Homo sapiens: one gene and its partners. The protein of the gene in region 4 interacts with the protein of the main gene of each other region in a pairwise test. Each region holds a gene or a part of one and is shown on either strand. Other genes may lie near its edges.

Region 1 (7,962 bases), on a different chromosome or scaffold from region 4:
TCACAGGATCTAGGCCGTTCCGTTCCCTTCTGAATTCATGGAGGACCCTTAGTTTAAAGTTAGAACGATTTTCTAAGTAGTTTAACCCCTGTTTTCTCCGTATCTTTATCTCTCATGCCACTTTCTTATGCAATTAAAACTACCAAGAAATCATTTTCATCTATCCCCCTGAAGTGCTCACTTTCAGAATCTCCTGTCCTCCTATGCAACATTGGCTGTTTTTTAAGCCTGCTACCCAGCTGTCATGTGGGAACACTCACTCAGTGCGCTCACATTGGAACTCCATTTCCAGGAACCTAAGTTTTCCTTTTTCATGTTTTTCTCTCTAGTGGCTTCCTGACAAAATGTGCAAAAGAGATAATTTTTTTGAGACCTTTCATGTCGGAAAAGATTTTTATTCCACCCTCACTTGTGGTTGTTAAAGTAGAGAATTTTGGTTCTCTACATAAGTCACAATTAGAAAAAAACTTAGAAATGAGGTGACAAACCTTAGGAAAGGATTAGAAATAAAAGGTTGGATATCATTTTGCGTTCACTTTTTTTTTTTTTTTAAGAGACAGCATCTCGCTCTGTCAACCAGGCTGGAGTACAGTGGTGTGATCACAGCTCACTGCAACCTCCGCCTCATGGGTTCGAGCAATTCTCTTGCCTCAGCCTCCCAAATAGCTGGGATTACAGGCACATACCACCATGGCCCAGCTAATTTTTGTATTTTTAGTAGAGACGGGGTTTCACCATGTTGGCCAGGCTGGTCTTGAACTCCTGATCTCAAGTGATCCACCTCCCTCGGCCTCCCAGAGTGCTGGGATTACAGGCGTGAGCCACTGCGCCTGGCCTGGGTTCGTATTTTGAAAGCATTCTTCACTAGAATGATGGCTTTCCTAAAATTGAATATGTGTTGGTTTTGCTCCTGACATTTTAAGTGTTTGTTTGTCGCCCCCGCCCCCAGCCATGGTTCTCTGAAAGATCCTGTGGATGTGCCTCACTGTGGATGTTTTTCATTTATCATTCATGGTTCTTGGTGGTCTCTTTGAATTTAGAAGCTCAGTTGTTTAGTTCTGAGTAGTATTTCAGAAAATATGTTTATAAAATAATTTCTTCATGATTTCTCCCTTCTCTCTTTCCAGAAGACCTACTTGATGTTGTTCTTCTTTGACCAAGTCTCTCATTTTCTTTTTCTTTTTTTTTTTTTTTTTTTTTTTTTTTTTTTTTCTGAGATGGAGTGTTACTCTGTCGCCCAGGCTGGGGTGCAGTGGCGCGATCTCGGCTCACTGCAAGCTCCGCCTCCCGGGTTCACGCCATTCTCCTACCTCAGCCGCTGGAACTACAGGCGCCCGCCACCACCGCCGGCTAATATTTTTGTATTTTTAGTAGAGACAGGGTTTCACCGTGTTAGCCAGGATGGTCTCGATCTCCTGACCTCGTGATCCGCCCACCTCGGCCTCCCAAAGTGCTGGGATTACAGGAGTGAGCCACCGCGCCCGGCCCAAGTCTCTCATTTTCTAATATTTTCTTTTATCTGTAAACAAGTTCTCTGAGAAGGAAATTCAAGGACAGAGACTTCATTCCAGCAAACAGCTAGCAAGCTGGTGAGACACAGCCTTTGGTGTAAAATGAAAATGTGTTCCAGAGAACAAAGGAAGGGAATTTGTCTTTTAGAGAAAGTTCCCACCCAGGTTCCCACTTAGGTCTGCTTATGCAAAATGCAGGATTGAAATTTACTTAGTTCTGGTTGGTTGATGTTTGCTTAGTTAGCTCTTATTAGTCAGGGCATGCAGACTTCTGATTGATCCATGTAGGTTACAGCCTATTGTTTGGTTCAGGTGGCATAAACTGGAAGCTATGAAAGTCCCAAAGTTAAGCAGATGTGCACATTTTCTGGGAACTCAGAGTAAATATGTGACCTGTAGTCAGCAAATGGTTGCTTGGTTTTAATTTGAATTTAGGCCCAGTTAGCTGCTCAGGACTCATCTTAAGAGGCTGGTTCTTTACGCCAGGCACGGTGGCTCACACCTGTAATCCCAGCACTTTGGGAGGCCGAGGCTGGCGGATCTCTTGAGGTCAGGCATTCGAGACCAATCTGGCCAACATGGTGAAACCCCATCTCTGCTAAAAATACAAAAATTAGCCAGGCATGGTGGCATGTGCTTGTAATCCCAGCTACTTGGGAGGCTGAGGCAGGAGAATTACCTGAACCTGGGAGGTGGAGGTTGCAGTGAGCCAAGATCGCGCCAGTGCACTCGAGCCTGGGTGACAGAGCAAGACTCAGTCTCAAAAAAAAAAACAGAGAGAGAGAGAGACTGGCTCTTTCAAGGCTCACATATTTATCTTTTCATCTTTTTGTTCTAATTTTGGGGAGTTTTTTTTTAAATTTATTTTCCAATTCATCTATTGAAGTTTTCTTTTGGGACTTAGTTTTTAATTCTAAGAGGTCTTTTATGTGCTTCCTGTTCAATTTTAATGATGTTCTATCCATGTTTTAAATATACAGTATTTTTGTTACTTCTGAAAGTAATAATTATAGGTAGTTTCTTTTTTAAAGTTTTCTTCAACGTTCTTCATTATCTCTGTTTCCCCTGAGTGCTATTTTTTGTTTGTTTGAGTCTCTGTCTTTCTTGTTGGAGTGTTTTTCAATGTATCGTGATATTTTAAATTATGTTCGTTTTGAGTAAGACCTTAAACATTTGAAAGCTTTGTGTGAAGTGTCTGTGTTTCCTTCCAGAGTGGTTGTACAGTGAGCTCCCTTTTTGTGGAGAACACTCAAACAATTCTATCTGGAGGTATTTTCTCTGAGATTCTTCAGCTTCCTCAGAGAGACCCAACAATTCGGGCTGGCTACATAATTTACAAGGCCCAGTGCAAAATGAAAATGTGAGGTCTCCTGTTGAAAAGTCAGAAAAAAAGTTCAGTTAGAAATATTAAAATAGGTCCAGCGCGGTGGCTCAAGTCTATAATCCCAACACTTTGGGAGACCAAGGTGGGTGGTCTGAGGTCAGGAGTTTGAGACCAGCCTGGCCAACATGGTGAAACCCCGTCTTTACTAAAAATACAAAAATTAGCCGGGCATGGTGGCAGGCACCTGTAATCCCACCTACTTGGGAGGCTGAGGCAGGAGAATCACTTGAACTCGGGAGGCAGAGGTTGCAGTGAGCCGAGATGGCACCACTGCACTCCAGCCTGGGCGACAGAGCGAGACTCCATCTCAAAAAAAAAAAAAAAGAAATAGTAAAATATAAATCTTTTTCTTCTAAAAAGTCTTATTATTTATAACATGTAATGAGGTAACGGGTACACATATATAACAGCATAAACTACAAACAGCAAAGAAATAATGTTTTGGTGTCCTAATTTTATGTAAAACAATAAACCATAATACTTTAATAATGTATTAAATTGATTGACAAATCTTTCTGGCTTTTTTTCCGCAAGCTCATTTATTAAGTCATGAAAATTTATATTTTTGCCAACTTCATTTTCAATCTAGGTAATTGAAAGTGATGTCAATCATTCTTGGCAAATGCAAGATCTCAAATGATTTGTTATAATTTTTAGTCTGAAGAAGAAAACCAGGTGGAAAGAATAACATGAACAAAGGCAAAGAGATGGGAAAGAGGGAAGTAGTAAAACAGAACGGACAAGTCAGTGCGGGAAAATTTACATTAAGACAGTGAGGTGGCTCCTGCCTATAATCCCAGCACTTTGGGAGGCCAAGGTGGGAGGATCTGTCGAGCCCAGGCATTCAAGACCAGCCTGGACAACATGGCAAACCCCAACTCTACAAAAAAATACACAGATTAGCCAGGCATAGTGGCGTGTGCCTGTAGTCCCAGATATTTGGTAGGCTGAGGTGGGAGGATCACTTGAGCCTGGGAGGTTGAGGCTGCAGTGAGCTGTGATCATGTCACTGCACTCTGGCCTGGGTGACAAAACGAGACCCTGTCAAAAAAAAAAAAAAAAGAGAGAGAGTCGTAAATACCAAGCACAAAACTATAAGAAATGACAAAGGTAGGGCACAGGAGCTATAAGTGGAAGAGAAAAGGGGAGCAACATGAGATGTAGAAAATTTCTTAGAAAGCAACTGTCTGAAACTCGATCAGACTCATCAGACTGAGGTTGTCAGTATTGAATGTAACCAAGAGGGTATAGGGGAAAAAATAAAAGAAATGATGATTAGAGATGTGCAGTGATGTCTGAGAGGTTAATTTCAGTAAAATAGTGGGACCACAATTCAGAAATAAGAGGTGAAAAGTACAAGAAGCAATGCAGAAAAGTGCTATGGAAATGGACAGCCAATAGAAGGAATGCAGAAATATGAGCAATCTACAGACAGAAAGTGAATATAGAGACCACAGTCTAGACCCTTCACTTTACAGATGTGGAAACTGAGGCCCGAGGAGGTGACCAATTCCTTTACTTAACCTGGTTAGCAATGGAACTTAGACAGAAAACCAGTACAGATGAAATGGTAATTCAGGAAGGATAAGGATCAAAGGAACACTTTCTGTCTCCAAAGAAGATTCCCTTTAATGCCTCAGTTTTCCTTTAGGACCTCCCCTCCTTCTTCTGATACTATGATACTTCATTGCTGAAGAAAATGCAATGCTGATTTGAGCAAGGGAAAGAGAAATCTGTCTATCATACTTTTTTATTCTTATAGGTATTATGCATTCCTGAAGCCTGGAAGACAGGAAGAGTTACTCATACTAAATTTGAAATGCATCACTATAATAATCCTGATAATACTCCACCCTGTCCAACTCCAGAGATAACAAATAACCCCACAATAACTATCCACCTACAGAAATGGACACAGTATGGTAAAGCCATTCATTAAAAAAAAAAAAAAATCACCCCATTATGGATAATTCACAATGAGCTGGCAAACATCATTTGGCTATGAGCAAAGCTCATCAAGAAACACCCTAATAATGTGTATATAAAGGCAAACCAAGCTGTTTGAGTAGGCCGTTCACCATCAGAGCATCACCGCAGAAACAAAGGCTCCAGCCTCCGGACACCATGTCTGTGCGCTTTTCTTCTACCTCCAGGAGACTTGGCTCTTGCGGGGGCACTGGCTCTGTGAGGCTCTCTAGTGGGGGAGCAGGCTTTGGGGCTGGAAACACATGCGGTGTGCCAGGCATTGGAAGTGGCTTCTCTTGTGCTTTTGGGGGCAGCTCATCTGCAGGAGGCTATGGCGGAGGTCTGGGCGGGGGAAGTGCTTCCTGTGCTGCCTTCACAGGGAATGAGCACGGCCTCCTCTCTGGCAATGAGAAGGTGACCATGCAGAACCTCAACGACCGCTTGGCCTCCTACCTGGAGAATGTTCGAGCCCTAGAGGAGGCCAACGCTGACTTGGAGCAGAAGATCAAGGGGTGGTATGAGAAATTTGGACCTGGTTCTTGCCGTGGCCTTGATCATGATTACAGCAGATATTTCCCAATTATTGACGAACTTAAGAACCAGGTAAGAAACGCCATGGCGTGAGTGTTAGCACTCCTGAGAGTGTTTAGCCACTCACAGATGCACAAATGTATAAGCTATCACAATAACAGGGCTTTGCCCTCAGCTTCTAAATTTTAGGAGTTCATTTTCAATATTAAAAATAATTTCTAATAAATTCTAATATTTGAACATGGCACGTCCATCATGTAGTATTAGGTATATGCTTTTGGTAATATTAAAATATCAAAAGCTGTCCAGTGTCTCCAGTTATATATTTATAGGCTTTCCCATAGAAAGAGCTTTTTTTAATGCTTGGGGTGGGAAATACAAGAGACCATACCCAGCCAGGCACAGTGGTTCAGCCTGTAATCCCAGCACTTTGGGAGGCCAAGGCAGGTGGATCACTTGAGATTAGGGGTTCAAGACCAGCCTGGCCAACATGGTGAAACCCTGTTTCTACTAAAACTACAAAAGTTAGCCGAGCGTGGTGGCACATGCCTGTAATCCCAGCTACTTGGGAGGCTGAGGCAGGAGAATCACTTGAATCTGGGAGGTGGAGGTTGCAGTGAGCCAAGATCGTGCCACTGCACTCCAGCCTGGGCAACAGAGCGAGACTCGGTCTCAAAATAAAAGACAGAGAGAGAGACCATACTTAAATTACCCATCTTCAAAAGAATGGTCTGATTATTAGAGACAGATGCCAGAAATATTACTATAATTTCATGGGTAATTTTATTTCAAGGAACTTTGAAATGCATCTTAAATATTTCCTCAATCTTAACTAACTTTTCATTTGTCAGATAATTTCTGCAACTACCAGTAATGCCCATGTTGTCCTGCAAAATGATAATGCAAGACTAACAGCTGATGACTTCAGACTAAAGTAAGTAGAGCTGAAGATAAATGGGAAAAAAAAGTTGTCTAAGCATTTTTTCTCCTTTATTCTTCTAAGTTATTTGACGTTGTCTCAAGCCTTTGTTCTTGTTTATTCATGTATTTGTTTTAAACAAAATGCCTGTTAGAATGAGTAACTAGCTGAGCAACAAATTTTACTTGGGAAATTTCGGGACTAACAAAAACGAGTGTCAAAGTCATATGAGAAAGAATTTTGGCTATTCCCATTCTCTTGCTTCAATGAAATGTATTTATTGCATGATAGATGACCTAACTGAAATGTGTTTTTTTAATTAATTAATTTATTTATTTATTTATTTATTTTTTGGAGACGGAGTCTCGCTCTGTCGCCCAGGCTGGAGTGCAGTGGCGCAATCTCGGCTCACTGCAAGCTCCGCCTCCTAGGTTCACGCCATTCTCCCGCCTCAGCCTCCCGAGTAGCTGGGACTACAGGCGCCCACCACTGCGCCCGGCTAATTTTTTGTATTTTTTAATAGAGACGGGGTTTCACCGTGATCTCGATCTCCTGACCTCGTGATCCGCCCGCCTCTGCCTCCCAAAGTGCTGGGATTACAGGCGTGAGCCACCGCGCCCGGCCTGAAGTTTTAAGTATTATCTTAGTAGTTTTACCTCAAAGCTTAGTCTGAGTTGTATGATGATCTAAAAAGTGATGTGCCATGTCTAATGACTAATGATGAAACTTCCAAATACTTTTCTAAGGTTTGAAAACGAGCTAGCGCTTCACCAGAGCGTGGAGGCGGACATCAATGGTTTGCGAAGAGTCCTGGATGAGCTGACCTTGTGCAGAACGGACCTGGAGATCCAGCTGGAAACTCTCAGTGAGGAGCTCGCTTACCTCAAGAAGAATCATGAGGAGGTAGAAGCTCCACCCGGCTGGCTCTCACAATCGCCTCCCTACCAAATTTTAAAACTAATTTCAGATGATAAATATAATGTCTTAAATTAACATTCAAGAAGGAACCTGTCAGTTTCTCCATAAGGCTTAGATTGTTTGAGACGCTTCTATTCATTCTTCTCAAAAGAAACAAACCTCCCAAAAAGTTTCTAACCCTATAGATCTTGTCCATCTGACTCCTTTAAAAATATTCAGGCCAGAAGCGGTGGCTCATGCCTATAATCCCAACACTGTAGGAGACCCAGAATGGAGGATCGCTTGAGGCCAGGATTTCGAGGCTGCAGTGAGTCATAATTGCACCACTGCATTTCAGCCTAGGCATCAGAGCGAGACCCTAACTCAAAAAGTGCAATAAATAAAATATTCAGATCCTAATTCCGTTAAACAAATATCTTTCAGGAAATGAAAGCTCTTCAGTGCGCGGCTGGAGGCAACGTGAACGTGGAGATGAACGCGGCCCCCGGGGTAGACCTCACGGTTCTGCTGAACAATATGCGAGCTGAGTACGAAGCCCTCGCAGAGCAGAACCGCAGGGACGCGGAGGCCTGGTTCAACGAAAAGGTAAAACCACGCTTGGGTGCGCCCGGGCGCGGACTCAGCCCCAGCGCCCTAACGCGGCCCCTGCCGTTCCAGAGCGCCTCGCTGCAGCAGCAGATCTCTGACGACGCTGGCGCCACCACCTCAGCCCGGAATGAGCTTATCGAGATGAA
Region 2 (5,810 bases), on a different chromosome or scaffold from region 4:
GATTCTTCCTTCTTATCTGTGAAAAATAAAGATAATGGAATAAGTTGCACCTTCTTCCAAGAGATAAGTGTCTGTATTTTTGCTTGGTCCATACATGGTTGAGCTTAGGACTTTTTGCCTCACACCTCCATGGTAAGAAATTAAAGAAAATGTTTCTTTCATTCCCATATTTTAAAACAAATTTCCTGTGACACCACAGTTAGCCTGCCAGTAACTCTCTCACAAGTCTACCTTTATTTGCGTAATCTTAGAATGATTTACAGAAAACAAATACCTTGCCTTCCCTCAAGTTTGGCTGGGACACATGAATCCATAAATGTTTTGGGACAGTAAGAAAGGATATTGAAACATTTGTAGATTCTTTCATGACAATTAGCATTGACAAAGAAATTATCTTATTTCTTTTCACAGAAGAGAATCATATTCTTATGTGGATATAATATTCATGCAGAATTTAAGCCCTCATTTGTTTGGCTATCCCGAAAACAAGGTATAATTGGTCAGATGGGAGACAATGAAGGCATATATGTATGATCATGCTCATTACAGCAAAAATATATTAAAGGATGTCCCCAATACCAACGGTAGACCTCATAAAGCACTCAAATCATTGAGTTTATTATAAAATAAATGTTTAACTTCTTTCAAAAATTTTAATTGTTGAAATATGGAGGTGAGAAAGAGCTTAAGCAGTAGTGCAGTCAAAGTCCCTAAATTCACCTTTGGAAGTACGGACTTACCCCTAAGTAAGCTGAATTATTTTCTGTATTACTATGGACTACAGTCTAATTTTATTAGCTTATTTCAATTATATTCTTTTTTTAACATGTTATTTTGAAAAATTTCAAATCTAGAGGAAAGTTAAAAAATAGTAAAATGAACATTCAATACCTCTGACCTAGAGCCACCAACTATCGCCATATTTACACACACTTCCTCCCTCCCATATACATACATATCTTTGTGTGCATGTGTTTGCTGAGCCAGTTGAAATTAACTTGCTGATATCACCCCTAAGTACTTTAGCCTGTATCTCCTTGAAACAAAATCATCTTCCTACATAACAATTGAATTATTGCCTTCAAGAAATTTATCATTGATAAATAATACCATCTAATATACAGTTCATAATCAAGTTTCCCCAATTTGAATTTTCATAATTGTTATAGTAATTTCCTTAATCACTATTATTGACACAGGATCCAATAAAAGTTTACACAATGCATTTAGTAGTCATGTATCTTTTATTTAGAACATTCTTCCCCCGATCCTTTTTTTCCTTTCTGTCTTTCATGACATGGACCTACCTTGTAGAGTCCAAGTCTGTTGTCTTGCAGCATGGCCTATAATCTAGATTTATCTTATGGTTTTATCATGATAGTTCAAAATGTTTATGGAAGAAACCCCTACTTATCCATATACAGTTGGTTTTCCACATACATCCCCATATTTTCCCATTTCTAAGACTTTGCTCTCACAGACTGTTTCTTTCATGTATGCCCTCACGTGTCTCTACAAGGCCTGGTTCAATACTTAACCTTCTCCAGGAAGATTTCTCTGACGCCTTTCATTCTGAAAGAGTCTGTGAATACCTAGAATACATTAGCCTTTCTTTTCTTGTAGCATGTATAATTTTTTGACTTTGTATGTATTTTTATTTGGTCACATATCTTTTACCTTCTCCCCAGTGAAAGTCAACTAAAGGCAAGCCTAGTTTATCTTTGTGATCTCTCTGGCATCTAGCACAGACTAGGCCATCAATATGTTTATTTCCTGAATGGTTAGATGAATAAATCAATGAACAAATCAAAACAGTATCTTTAGCCTCTGAGATATAGTGAGTTGGTTAAGAACTTAATTCTTTATAAAAGGTTACAGAATTTCTTCATACGTGTGCTTTCTGCATCTAAAATAGTCTACTTATTTTGTGTAAAAACTCTAAATAAATTTTTAGTTTTAATAAGAAAACATGTATATCACATGGTATAGCTCTTTTAAAAATCATGTTGGTAAGCGTTGAGGGAAGTCTTTCAATCTGGCAAGTTCATTCTTTAGCTTTGGGAAGTGGTCCCATATTATTTCTTGATAATTTCCTCTTGTGCATATTTTTTTTCTCTCTGGAATAAGTCCTATAAATCAGACTTCTGAGTTAAGATTTCTGAGTTCATCCTCTATATGTCTTATCTTTTCTTCTGTATTTTCTATCTTCGACTTTCTGAAAGACTCCTTCAATATTGTCTTCCAGCCTACAGGTATTACTGATCTTTAAAATTTTTTGAAATTTGTGTTTTTAATTTTTAGGAGTTTTGTTTTTATTCTCTGAGTGGTCTGTTTAATACCATCCATTTCTTGTCTTATGGATGTAATATCTTCTCAAGTCTGTATAAAAATAGTAATTAGAATTTAATGAAAATGTTCTTCTGTTCCCTTCATTAGCTCTGTTTAAGCTTTCTTAAAAGTTCTTATTTTTATCTTGGTCTCTCTCTTATTCATATTGAAGGCATGCTATCCATTAAGTATAGAAACTTCTGTGCACTGCAAAGCTGATTGGGAATTCTATGTATGTGAGCAAGTTTGCCAACTGCCAGGTTGGCTATAGGTTAATTACATGTTGACTTTGGCATTATGGTCAGAAACTCCCAACTGTCAAAACATGGAGATCTTTTTTCTGAGATCATTCAATTTCTTTAATAAAAAACTCTTCAGTATTTTGCCTGGGAATAAACATCTAGTTGCTGAAGACACCCAGCAGAGGGGTGTGTGTGTGTGTGTGTGTGTGTGTGTGTTCTGTTTATTTTGGCTTCTTGTTACCTTCTGCTGTTTTTAGTCCTTTATTTCACCCCTTCTGTCTGCCATACCTGTCACCTCTTGTCTATCTCCTCTGCATCAGCACTCCAAGCCTTGGCTTTATCCTGCTATATCAGTTATCACTCATTTTTCCATCTAGTTTCCATTTTCCAGAATTTTGTTAAAATTTCTGACCCTTTGATGAATTATCTTGCTGTTTTGTTATGGATTTATATGTTTTTTTTGTTTTTTTTTTTTTGAGACGGAGTGTCTCACTGTCACCAGGCTGGAGTGCAGTGGTGCGATCTCGGCTCACTGCAACCTCCGACTCCCTGGTTCAAGCGATTCTCCTGTCTCAGCCTCCCAAGTAGCTGAGATTATAGGCACGGGCCACCACGCCCAGCTAATTTTTTTGTATTTTTAGTAGAGATGGGGTTTTACCATGTTGACCAGGCTGGTCTTGATCTCCTGGCCTCATGATCCACCCACCTCGGCCTCCCAAAGTGTTGGGATTACAGGCGTGAGCCACCATGCCTGGCCTATATGTTCTTTTAATGCCTTTACCATTATTCTGTGGAGTCTTGGGAAGGAGAGGAAATAAATGCATGTTTTTATTTGCCATCTTTAATTGGACTGCTTAATGTAAAACTGTTCGTGTTATAAATTCCCCCTCATATATTTGGTTTTGTGACTGCAGTAGTGTAAATTCTCTGCCTAGAATTTTAAAGAAAGTGATTCTGTATGTGATTAGGGAGTAAGGTTCAGATAACCTTGAGTGGTTTAAAGTTTCCTACTGAGTAATCTGAACAAGGCGGATTTAAGATACTGCAGACAGAGTGTGAGAATAACTCTCTCTTCACAACTTAAGAAGCCTGGTTCCTTATTTACAACTGGGATAAGATAAATGGTTGAATACCTAGAGAAGTTCCACAAAAAGTTACACAAAAAGTTTAGTTAAATTTAAGTTAAAAGTTAGTTAAAATGAAAAGTTAAGTTTTTATTCTGCTACTAAACCATGCTCCTCTGCGTGTCTGAACCTTCAGGTTCCTCTAGATTTCTAGCACCTGAAAGAAAACAAAACTGCAGCATCAGCCAGGTAGGCCTCTCCTAATCTTACTCATTCACAGAGAATTTCCCCTTTGAGTCACCATGGCATTGGCTGGTTACTCATACCACAGATCCCTCAGGATTGGCTGGGACTGCAAATAAAATACTGTTTGCCCATAATCAAGTTGATAAGCTACAACATAAACACATCTAGGTTCTTGTTCTTAGAATACAGCATGAAGAATTTGCTTTCTTCTTTCTTCCTAACATTTTCATGTGAGATCCAGAAAGGACACATTGTCTCTGGCCATTCGAAGAAAGAAAGAAAGAAAAAAAAAAAAGGTATTTAGAGACAGAGAGAGAAAAAGGCTGAAATGGGTTCGCTGGGTTCTAAAAATCCGCAAACCAAACAAGCCCAAGTTCTTCTTTTGGGACTTGACTCAGCTGGGAAGTCTACTCTCCTTTATAAATTAAAGCTTGCTAAGGATATTACCACCATCCCTACAATAGGTTTCAATGTGGAAATGATCGAGTTGGAAAGGAATCTTTCACTCACAGTCTGGGATGTTGGAGGACAGGAAAAAATGAGAACTGTTTGGGGCTGTTACTGTGAGAACACCGATGGGCTGGTGTATGTTGTGGACAGTACAGACAAACAGCGACTGGAAGAGTCTCAGAGACAGTTTGAGCACATTTTGAAGAATGAACACATTAAAAATGTGCCTGTTGTTCTATTAGCCAACAAACAAGACATGCCTGGAGCTCTGACTGCTGAGGACATCACCAGAATGTTCAAAGTGAAGAAGCTTTGCAGTGACCGGAACTGGTATGTGCAACCCTGCTGTGCCCTCACAGGGGAGGGGCTGGCCCAGGGGTTCAGGAAATTAACTGGATTTGTGAAGAGCCACATGAAATCAAGAGGAGACACTTTGGCGTTCTTCAAGCAGAACTGAGGCTGCGAAAAATCCAAGTCTCTACAGAGACACTGATGAAGTTGAAAGGGTAATTGTTTTTCCATGCCAAATGAGGAAATCAAATTAATGAGTTGACAAACTTTTCCTGAGATGTTATTTCATCTACATTTAGTTAAACAACTTAGAATGATATCTAGAAAATATTTATTTTCAGCCAGGAACTTTAGCAAACTGTGGCAATGATCACTGGGAATGAAAACGTATAATGTTCTACAATTTTTGTTATCACATTGGATGACTTTGAATATAGTAGTGACACTTGGGACCAAATAAATTATTTTATATGACTACTAGAACAAAGTTTTAGTAAGCTGTCTGCTAATAGAGTCAGAATTCTTCCAGATTGTTTCCAGCTGTAACAGGTATTGAATTTCCACCGTGCTCCTATGTAACAGCTGGGTGGTGTAAAAAATGAACTTCAAATTATGGAGTGGAAAAAGCGTAATGTTAATATCTTGTAAATTCGTATTCCCTATTAAATAAAGCTTTCTTATTCCCTAAATAAAGCTGTTCTTCTGGATTCCTGCCAGCTTTTTGAAATCTATTGCTGGGAACTTCCTCCAATGAATCTTAAACAATGAACTTCAGGCTGCTAATTGCTCAGAGCCTGTGTTCTGCCATAGGGAGCAGAAGTGTATAAACTTAAAGGTCTGGTGATCGGGGTAGCACCTTGGAGTTTAGGGCAAGATCTGGGCTCAGGGCTTAGCTCTAGGCTACAGCCCCGAGTCTTGCTTCCTTGGAATTCAGCTTAACAGCCATTGCTTGGAAACATATGTGCAGCTCATTGTACTGATCAAACAGGAACCAGACCTAGACTTTGCTCTCAGAGACCTACAATTCACAGCAGGAAACAACATAAAGCTAGTAGCTAGAGTAGGGCAATAAGTGCTAAGTGCGATTGCAGGAGATACTCTTTTTAACCAGGGAAACAAGAAATGTTTCATGCAGGAGATGGTATTTTAGAGGGTCCCTCACTCCCAGTGACCCTACAAAGGTACAGGT
Region 3 (7,051 bases), on a different chromosome or scaffold from region 4:
CCTGTCACTGCTGCTCCACCTTCCCTCATGGCTGTTTTACCCAGTGAATTATCTTGTACCTCTAATCCCATCTTGGCTGCATCTCAGTGGATGAAAGCTAACATACCAGGCTTGATTCTTTGCACTGTTTTTCCTCTCTCCCATGTTTAGCCAGTAACCATGTCCTAGTGAGTTTCCATTTGGTGCTTAGCCCTCACCAGTCATCTCAGTGCGATGGTTAATGCTAGGTTAGCTACTGTTGAGGGGCATGTCCTAGATACCAGGCCCTGTGCTAAATACTTTACCTGTATCTCATTTGATTTATACAGTAACTCTCTTGGGTAGACATTATTTCCATTTTACAGATGAAAAGACAGAGGCTTAGGGTGATGAGAAAACTTATCCAAAGTCACATGGTTAGTGACAAGTGGATTTAGAATTTGACTCTAGGACTACCTGACTTTAAGGTTAATGGTAACAGTAGTAATAATAATAGCTAATATTTGTGAAGCTTTTCTTTGTGTGTGGCATTTTGCTGAAGGCTTAATCAAATGTTACATTAAATCTTCAAAACGATACTATGAAACAGGCATTGTTATTTCAATTTTCATTTTTTCCACCCATTTCTTAGTGATGAGAATTATTGCAATTTTCAGTTGAAGAATTGAAGGCTCAGAGAAGTTAAGAATCTTGTGCAAGAAATTGATAGTGGTAAATACTTACATTAAAGAGAGACCTCAAATCAACAACCTAACTTTACAAATTCAGGATATAGAAAAAGAACAAAATCAACCCAAAGATAGTGAATGAAGGAAACAATAAGAATTATAACTGAAATAAATAAAATGGAGGCTATAAAAACAATAAAGGGAGTCAATGAAACCAAAAGTTGGTTCTTCAAAACAGATCAACAAAATTGACAATCATTTACTAGGTTGACTGAGAAAAAAAGAGAAGATTCAGATTACTAAAATCAGAAATGAAAATGGGGGCATGGTGGCTCACACCTTTAATTCCAGCACCCTGGTAGGTCAGAGGATGAGGGTTGCTTGAGGCCAGAAAGTCATGACCAGCCTATGCAACATAGGGCGACACAGTCTCCACATTTTTTTTTTTTTAAACTAGCCAGGCATGATGGCATATGCCTGTAGTCCCAGCTACTCAGGAGGCTGAGGTAGGAGGATCACTTGAGCCCAGGGGGTTCAGCCTGCAAGTAAGCTATGATCAAGCCACTGCACTCCAGCTTGGGTTGGGTTACAGAGTGAGACCTACTCTCAAAAAAATTGATGACATTGCTACCAATTCTACAGAAATAATAAAGATTAAAAGAGTGCGGTAAATAATTGTATGCCAACAAATTGGATAACCTAGATGAAACGGACAAATTCCTGGAACACACAAAAAAATCTGAATAGACCTATAATTAGTAATAAGATTTAGCCAATAAAAGCATTTGACAAAATTCAACATTCTTTTATAAATAAAAACACTCTGTGAATGGAAGGAAACCACCTCAACATAATAGAGGGATACTCAATGGAGAAAGACTGAAAGCTTTCCCTGTAAGACCAGGAGCAAGACAAGGATGCCTGCTTGCCCCACTTCTCTTCAACATAGTGTTTTAAGTCCTAGCTGGAGAAATTAGGCAGCAAACAAACAAATAAACAGACATCCAAATCGGAAAGAAGTAAAATTATCTCTGTTCACAGATAACTTAAACTTATATGTAGAAAACTCTACAGGGTTGGAGTTGTTGCTGGTGACCGAGGGCTTGGGCAGCTCCGCTGTGCAGAAAACAGAGAGAAGATTGCCGTGTGTGGCACCTTTGATTCCTCTGCAGGCATCGTTCAGTCAGAGTTGGCATCTCCCACCCCTCAGTCCACCCAAGTCCTTAAGAGCCCAGGGCAGGTGTGTGTGTCAGAAGACGGATGCACAACGATCTGAGGGCTCGGAGATCGAGGCCACCTGCTTTGTGTGGGAGAAGTACAGACTTTCTCAAATGTGAATAGGGCAGAAGCATTGAGTCTTGGGCAGATACAGGACTGACAGCCACAGCCTCTGGCACCTCTCCTGTTTCTTCCCTGACTGGCTGACTGCCTGGTCTTTTGGGGTACTCACCTGGAACATGCAGGTGCTGTTTCTTTCAGCTGCACAGTCCCACACCACCCAGCCAAGGTGTGTTTTTTCTGAGGCTTTGCTATTTAAGGACATCCTGGAGATGGGTGATGATGGGGATGGGGGTTTGAGCGGGAGACCAGAAGCAAGTCTAGAGGTGAGTTCAGGGGTCAGGCTGTGGGTCACAGGTGGGCAGCTCTGCCCAGGAGTTTGATGGGAACAGAGTTTCATTTTGGGAGGAAGAAGAGAGTTCTGTGGGTGGGTGGTGGTGATGGTAGCAGAACAACGGGAATGTGTTTAATACTACGGACCTGCACACGTGGAAGGGTTGAAAAGGTAAGTCCTATATTAGATACATAGTGGCTGGTAGTCTTATCCTCTCTATAAATACACACTTTTTGTCACTGCCCCTTCCCTGCCATGCAGAGTCCCCATGGCTGAATCTCCCTATGTCTCCAAGTGTGCGTCACTTGCTGTCCTCTGTGCTGTGTCCCATGTGCTGTGCCCACAGTCTTATACAGCCAGTGACTTCAGAGCCAGGACACAGCTCAGCAGTCTGTCATGAGGCTCCATGTCTTCCCATTTTCCTGCGGCCTGATCCAGGGGAGGCTTTGGTGTTGATTAGCATCTTGATTTAGCCTGATTCAGGACAGACACCTGGGCACCTTCTCCATATGCCCTGGTTCCACCTTAGGTGGCTTCAGGGTGGGGTCAGTCAGTCACTGGGGGTGCTGGGAGCAGAGATGGGGGCAGAGTCTGAGCTGCTCCTCCATCACCCAAGGGGCTTCCTCTTCTCATTTAAGGAAAAAGTGTGAGCTCATTTCAAAACCTCCTTGTCCCTTGTAGCTTATGGAGTAGGTAAAAGAACACAAAGAAGTGACAGAAAGGGAATTGTTGGTGACAGAGAGCAGGAACTTGACCCTGAGGACCCTTCCTCCTTTTTTCTCTGTGAAGCCCCTTTCACTACACAGGGCTCAGTGCTGAGGGAGCCCCCTCCTCTCATTCCAGGATGGACCCAAAGTCAGACATGAGAAATCAAAAAACAAAAAACAACAAAAAACAAAAAAACAAGGGGAAAAGAGTCTGCAGAGGTGAATTGGGAGGGTTCAGGGGAGAATTTGGGATTTGCGTGTGCCCCTTGGACACAGGTTGGGAAAGAAAATTTCTTCCTGGCTCTTCTCTGAGAGCCAGACTCCACCTGAAAATGTGATGCTAGTGCTTCATGGATCCACTTACCAGAGACTGTGATCATCGTGACTGTGGTCCTATTGAGGCCAGTGGCTGAGTTATGGGCTTGGCACATATAGGATCCGCTATTATTCACAGTGATGTTGGGGATAAAGAGCTCTTGTGTGGATTGCTGGAACGTCCCATTGATAAACCAAGAGTACTGTGCAGGTGGGTTAGAGGCTGCGTGGCAGGAGAGGTTCAGATTTTCCCCTGGACGGTAATTGGCCTTTGAGGGGGAAATGGTGGGGACATCTGGGCCATCTGGAGGAAACAGAATAAAGCCACAGGTGATGTTGTCAGAGGGAAGCATAAGTTCCTGGTCTGTGGAAGGGCCACGGTGTCCCCCTGAGCCATGTCACAACCCTGAAGTCTCAACCAAACCCCCGCTATGTCCCCTGAGCCAAAGTCTGAGACATTCACCTGTTTCTCCCATCAGAAAATGTGAACCCTGAGCCTTAAGGACATCCTGGAGATGAGTGATGATGGGAATGGGTGTTTGAGCAGAAGTAGCACAGGAGACAGCCCCTCCCCTCCCATTCTTGGTCAAGGCCTGGTCTGCCCAGGTTTGCTCAGGGCAGGAAGTCATGGCCAGCCTGGGTGAGGGTCTGAGTCCTTAGACCTGAGAGGGACTGAGAGACCTGGACTCTGGCTGTGTGGATTTGGGCTGGCAGCCTGGGCCACAGAGGAACAGAAGATACTCACAGAGGACATTCAGGGTGACTGGGTCACTGCGGTTGGCACTCGCTGGGTTCTGTATTTCACATTCATAGGATCCTGCATCGTTCCTTTTGACGCTGAGTAGAGTGAGGGTCATGTTGCCATTGGACAGCTGCAGCCTGGGACTGACCGGGAGGCTCTGACCATTTACCCACCACAGGTAGGTTGTGTTCTGAACCTCAGGTTCACAGGTGAAGGCCACAGCATCCTTGTCCTCCACGGGGTTGGAGTTGTTGCTGGAGATGGAGGGCTTGGGCAGCTCCGCTGTGCAGAAAACAGAGAGAAGATTGCCCTGTGTGGCACCTTTGATTCCTCCACAGGCATCTTTCAATCAGAGTTGGCATCTCTCACCTCTCAGCCCCCTTGAGTCCTTAAAAGCCCCTGGCAGGTGTGTGTGTCACACAACAGATGCACGATGATTTGAGGGCTGAGATTGTGTGAGATCACCTGCTCTGTGTGGGAGAAGCACAGTCTTTCTCAAGTGTGAATTGAGCAGCAGCATTGGGTCATGGACAGACACAGGACCCGGGGTCACAGCCCCTTGTGCTTCTCCTGGTTTCTCCCTGACCAGCTGCCTGCCTGGCTTCCCTTGGAGTCCTCACCTGAAACATTCAGGTGCTGGGTCTTTTCAAGCTTTAGTCCTACTTTGCCCCCCTAGCTGTATTTTCTGTGTGGCTTCCTTTTCTAAGGACATTCTAGAGATGGGTGATGATGGGACTTCTTATTGTCCTTAAACCCCAAGGATACTGTGCAGCCTGGCCTGGGATTGGACCTTTCAGCAGAAATAACACAGGGGACACCAGGGGCAAGCCTGGAGGTCAGTTCGGTCATCAGGCAGTGGAACCACAGGTGGGGCAGTTTTTCCCAGGTGTTTAATAATGACTGACTTGAGCCTGTGACACCTACAGATAGAGCAGAATTCAGAGAATGATCTAGAAGACAGTGAGGGGGACAGGCAGGAGCTGCCTGAATTTCCCAGCAGAACCGTGTTCCTTTTCTTTGGCCTTTAATGTTTCTTCTCCCTCTGCGGAGGGCAGGTGAGGACCCTGTGGCTCTCTCCATAAACACATGTGGATGTTTGCAAATGCACAGCTGAGTGGTGGAAAGGGGGAGCATGAAATGCTGCAAATCTGACTCTCAAGGACCATGTGTGTTTGACAGATATGAGACAGAAATTTGAGGAGAAGTTTTGCAAATATTTTCTCCCATTGGACATTATGCTAAATGCAATAAGTCACTCACAGGACAGATACTGTAGGGTTCCACTTATATGAGGTCCCTAGAGTAGTCACACTCATGGAATCAGAGTAGAATCATGGTTGCCAGGGATTGGGAGAGGCAGAATGGGGAGTTAGTCAATGGGTGTGCGCTTTCAGTTATACACAGGATGAGGTTCTAGAGATTTGCTGTACAGCTTGGTACCTATAGTTCATACGGATTGAGTATCACTTACGCATAAGGCTTAGGACCAAAAGTGTTTTGGATTTCTGACTGTTTCTGGATTTTTGAATATTTGCAGTAGACTTACCCGTTTAGCACCCTAATTTTGAAAACCCAGAATCTAAAATGCTCCAGTGAGCATTTCTTTTCAGCATCACTTTAGTGGTCAAAAAGTGTTAGATTTGGGAGCATTTCAGATTTTGGATTATTGGATGTGGGATGCTTGACCTGTAGTGTTGTAATTTGCTTTGAAAAGTTTGTCAGGAGTTTAGACCTCATGTTATGTTCTGAATATAGTAAAAAATAAAAGAACTTTGGGGGAAACATTTAATTTTTTCCATAAGTGGAGATCGTTACTAATGTCCTAAAGATCAAAGATCAAGGGCTGGAAGTAGTATTTTTCTTGATAACATACTAAGGTTTAGGTGTGCTGTGAATTCCAGCAGGATCATATTGTCGTCAAATGAAGATGCTGAAGTTGGTTTGAAATTAGCAACTCCTTGAGTAGAGAGAGGCATATGAGTCCTCTTAGGAGGATAGAACCAGTAGGAGAGGAAGTCTTAGGTGTGTGTCAGTTACATAAAGGAAGGAACGATGCCAAATTAGAAGCAACGTGTGTTATGTTAGTAAATTTAGAAAGAGCTCCCTGCCCCTAATTCCTGTGCAGTTAGGCAAATAGGGAAGGAGCCCCAAACAGTCATGTGAAATGCTTTCTTCCTCTCCTGTTAACCTGAGAAAACACAATGAGAGTTTAAGTTCATCTAAACTGGGCAGAGTCTATGTGAGACTCCAGTGGCTGGTGCACTTCTCAGTCCAAGGGACCCCACCTTATGACAATGGCATCATCATGAGGACACAGTAGTGTATGTGGAATGGGCAGCAAACCCATCAGACAGCACCTGCCTGGCCGGCTCCACCTGGGGAAGGTCCTGGGGAATGACTGGAGGATGTGAGCCTCACACCAAGATGAGGACGGAAGTCAATGGATGAAATTAGCCTCTGGGCCTTGGGGAAAGCAGACCTGTCATCCTGCCTCTGACTGCCTGGTGAGTCAGTAGAGACTGTATGGAGGAGTCGCTTGTCCCTGTCCCGTGGCCTGTTCCACATGTCGGCCTCACTGGGGGAAAGAGCCCTGGATGGGGACACAGTGGAAGCTCATTCTCCTGTTGACTTGGGGACATTGGCTCGTGATGGAGCCCGGCAGGGGCGGCTGCTCCGGCTGATTTCTGTGCCTTCTCTGTTGCCTGGGATGTGGGCCAGGACACAGTGTGAGCAGGAAGGGAACAGGACAGCCAGCCTTGTTAGAGGGGTTTTCTGGGGAAGGCCTAAGGGTGGAGGAAGCTGTGCAGGGCAGGGCATCCCAGCTAGAATGAAAGGGGAGGAAAATGAGGGACAGAGAGGAGCAGAAAGAGCCAGAGATACCCATGGCAGTGAGCAGTGGGGGATACAGTGACCTCAGAGACCCCAGGGACCAGGAGCCTCTTGGCTGCCCCAGACCAGGACCAGGGAGACCTGAAAACCCTCTAATGACCAAGGAACCCCAGAGTCACATGAGATGGGGTAGGTTTAG
Region 4 (3,309 bases):
AGGCTGGGGGCTTGGTGGCTTGGTGTGACACCAGGCCACCTATCTCCAGGCAGGAAATGATGGGGAGCCTGGAGTTGGGGCCTGAGGCTGATGTGTCCCAGCTGGAGCCCCTTCTGACCTTGGAGAACATTGAGCAGCTGGAGGCAACATTTGTGGCCAACATCCAGGTGAGTAGTTGAGGCACAGGTCCAGAGAAGTCCTACTTATCTGCTGTGGGCCTTTATCTGCAGAGTGGAATGTCTACCCATCTCCAGCAGGGTCAGATCCCTGCTACATTCCTTTGCCCCTGGCCCCTCCCCCCAGGCAAGTGTGTCTCAGTGGCTGCAGAATGCACTGGATGGGGAGGTAGCTGAGTGGGGCCGGGAGCATGGGCCCAACACAGACCCGTCTGGCTCCTATTACTCACCAATGCCAGCCATTGTGCTGCAGGTAGGTGGGAAGTGGCCAGACAGGCAGGCAGCCTCCATGGGGCAGTGGGGAGGAGAGGAAGGAGGGAGGCTTTGCCGATGGCTGCTCATTTCTGCCTGCAGATCCTGGAAGAGAACATTCGTGTGGCCAGCCTGGTCAGTGAGTCACTGCAACAGCGAGTGCATGGCATGGCACTGTCAGAACTGGGCACATTCTTGAGGAGGTTTGCTGAGGCACTGACCCATTCCTGATCCCTATCCCTGCTCCCCAGGCAGCCCAAAGGGGCTCTGAGTGAATAAGACATGTCACAGGGAAAGGGCTCTTTCAAACAAGGACTTGGGTATCTTGGAGGTGGGACAGGAGTACCAGGGACTGGGGCTGTGGGGATGCCAGCATAGCAGCAAGTCCAGGAGCCACCTCTGCCCATTGCAGCTTCAGTGATGCTCTGATCCGATTCTCCCGAGACCACTTCAGGGGGAAATCAATGGCCCCTCATTACGTGCCCTACCTACTGGCCGCCCTCAACCACAAGTCAGCACTCAGGTACCAGAAGGCCCCCAGGGAACCCCACCTTCACTAACCCCCTATTGAGTACCTATTATGTATGGGCTCAGCCCACACTAGGACACTAGGGACTTTGGACTCACATCGCCCTGGGGTTCCAATTCTAGTTCTGCTAATTACTAGTTGTGTGACCTTGGATGAGTTACCTAATCTCTGTGAATCTCACTTTTCTCATTAGTATTATGGGGGTACTAATGGAATGTTCTGAGAATCACATGAGATAACATGTAAAGTGGCCACCATAGTGCCTGGCACATGGTGTCAATTGTTCATTCGTCCAGCAAATATTTCAAGGCCCTACTCTGTGCCAGTAATGTCTGGGGTTACAGCTGTGTGTATACACGCACACACACACACACTCCCTTCCTCTTGGGTGGTATGTTCTTTTTGGTGGGGGCAAGGAAAACAAGTGATGATTTTTTACTCCCTCCTCACTGGGATACTTCCCTTCCTTTACGAATGAGGAAACAGAAACCGAAAGAATGTTTTCCTCAAGGACGCACCGCGAATTTGAGGCAGGTCTCGCTGGGCTGTGTCCTTTGCAGCTCGCCAAGCGCCCGTCTCCCAGCCCTGGTCCATGCCTGGGACCAGAAGTGCAGAGAGCCGCTGTTCTCGCTCCCTCCCGTCAAACACTTGCCCCACAAGGTGGCGCCGGAGGGTCTGGACCACCGAGGGCCATGCGGGCCTTGGCCTTGGTCCTGAAGCCGTAGTTTTGCTTGGTCCAGCTCCTCAGTGTCTGTCCTGCAGCTGGACGGGGCGCCTTCAGGGGCCTTGGCTCCAGTGGAAGCTGCGCTGGACGAGTTGCAGAGGAGGATCTACCGCTTGGTGTTGGAGGCGCTGCAGGCGGAGCTCCAGGTGAGGCCTCCTTCAGGTCAGGATGGGAGCAGGTGGAGAGGTGGCGGTACAGCTACGTATGGGGGTCTCCGCGGCAATGCCAGATCTGGATCATTTCCCCAGCCCCTGTTCGCGGATCTGCCCTCGCGCCAATGGCTGTCGAGCCCTGAGCTCCTGCAAAGTGTGTGTGAACGGACGGGGCGCTTCTGCCGGGACTTCTGGCGCGTGCGGAACCCCACGGTTCAGGTGGGTTGGGGGAAAAGATTGGGGAAGGGGCGGCGCGGGTGAGAGGCGACCTGCACCCGCCTGATTGCCTCCCCGCAGCTGCTGCTGGCTGAGGCCGAGCGTGCCGTGGTGCTCCAGTACCTGAGCGCGCTGATGCAAGGCCGCCTGGTGTGCCGCGGAGCCGACGAGAGGACCCAGGCGGCCGAGCGCCTGCGGCACGATGCTGCCCAGCTTCAGCAGCTTTTCCTCAGTTTGGTGAGAGCTTCTTGGGCGGGCAGACGGGCGAGAGTCTCAGTGGCTGGGTGGGAGAGAGGGCTGGCGCGAGACCCTACCCCGACGTGCTCAGGGCCTGGAGGAGAACGCGCACTGCGCGCCGGTGCTGCTCGCCCTGAGGGAGCTGCTAAACCTCCGCGACCCCGCGCTGCTGGGCCTGGAGGTGGCTGGCCTGCGGCAACAATTTCCCGACGTGAGGTGCGGACTGGGGGCCAGAAGGGAAGAGAAGCCGGAGGGCGGGGAGGACGGGGCTGACGCGCCTCCTTGGTGCCCCTGCAGCGAGGACCACGTCTCCGCCCTCTTGGGCCTGCGCGGGGACTTGTCCCGGGAGCAGCACCTGGCCGCGCTCAGCTCCCTGCAGGCTGCGCTGCCGCCGTCGCCCCGCGCGAGCCGCCGCGTCCTCTTCAGCCTAGTGCCCGCGCCCGCGCTCGCGCCGGCCTCCTGCCTGCCCTCGGGGTCCTGCGCCCGAGCCCTGCTGCTCGCAGAATAAACCACGGCTGCCGGACGCCTGAGTCTGTGTGTGTTGGGGAAGGTGGGATGGAATAAAAGTGCCCACGAGGGTTGAGGGAATTCTTGCAGAGTGACACGCTTAAAGTATCCTGGCTCCCGTCCTGGTACACGGGCTGCGCCCCGCCTATGCAGGCATCTGCCCTCTGTGCAGACTGCGTTCCCGAGGCCGCGGGCTACGCCCCCACGTCTCCGCGCCCAGGCCGTGAGCAAGAGTCTCCGCCGCCCTGGCCGCCTGGAGCCCCTGAAGCCCAGCAACTCGCTGTGGCCTTGGGAAGGGGGCGGGCCCAGGACCACGAACACCGCCCCCTCAACCCTGCCTGGCTTCGCTCCCAGTGGCCTCGGGGGCGCGCCGCCGCGGAGACTGACGCGAAGCCCCACGCTTTCGTAAGAGCGTGCGCGCGCCCGAGGACGTACGTCATCGGCGACGGCTCCCGCCGGCTGGGCGTCCGGTGGCCGGTGTAGCAGAGCGGGAGCGGCGGGCGGCGAGCAGAGGAG

What was found.
Region 1: the proteins of EXOC3L1 (region 4) and KRT27 interact in binary tests that used the Homo sapiens proteins (3 or more experiments, as listed by UniProt).
Region 2: the proteins of EXOC3L1 (region 4) and ARL14 interact in binary tests that used the Homo sapiens proteins (3 or more experiments, as listed by UniProt).
Region 3: the proteins of EXOC3L1 (region 4) and CEACAM6 interact in binary tests that used the Homo sapiens proteins (3 or more experiments, as listed by UniProt).

What each region holds. Positions count from the first base shown.
Region 1 is NC_000017.11:40,779,551-40,787,512, reverse strand, and holds the start of KRT27 (keratin, type I cytoskeletal 27), read left to right. Parts: upstream 1-4,962; 5' UTR 4,963-5,019; coding exon 5,020-5,463; intron 5,464-6,242; coding exon 6,243-6,325; intron 6,326-7,056; coding exon 7,057-7,213; intron 7,214-7,651; coding exon 7,652-7,813; intron 7,814-7,885; coding exon 7,886-7,962.
Region 2 is NC_000003.12:160,673,139-160,678,948, forward strand, and holds ARL14 (ADP-ribosylation factor-like protein 14), read left to right. Parts: upstream 1-4,021; 5' UTR 4,022-4,208; coding exon 4,209-4,787; 3' UTR 4,788-5,310; downstream 5,311-5,810. UniProt on the Homo sapiens protein: GTPase that recruits MYO1E to MHC class II-containing vesicles via the effector protein ARL14EP and hence controls the movement of these vesicles along the actin cytoskeleton in dendritic cells.
Region 3 is NC_000019.10:41,758,503-41,765,553, reverse strand, and holds part of CEACAM6 (cell adhesion molecule CEACAM6 preproprotein), read right to left. Parts: intron 6,528-7,051; exon of another isoform or gene 6,193-6,527; intron 4,306-6,192; coding exon 4,027-4,305; intron 3,586-4,026; coding exon 3,331-3,585; intron 1-3,330. UniProt on the Homo sapiens protein: Cell surface glycoprotein that plays a role in cell adhesion and tumor progression. Intercellular adhesion occurs in a calcium- and fibronectin-independent manner.
Region 4 is NC_000016.10:67,183,879-67,187,187, reverse strand, and holds the end of EXOC3L1 (exocyst complex component 3-like protein), read left to right. Parts: intron 1-49; coding exon 50-167; intron 168-303; coding exon 304-429; intron 430-530; coding exon 531-631; intron 632-840; coding exon 841-951; intron 952-1,697; coding exon 1,698-1,827; intron 1,828-1,929; coding exon 1,930-2,052; intron 2,053-2,130; coding exon 2,131-2,286; intron 2,287-2,377; coding exon 2,378-2,502; intron 2,503-2,583; coding exon 2,584-2,794; 3' UTR 2,795-2,809; downstream 2,810-3,309. UniProt on the Homo sapiens protein: As part of the exocyst, may play a role in regulated exocytosis of insulin granules.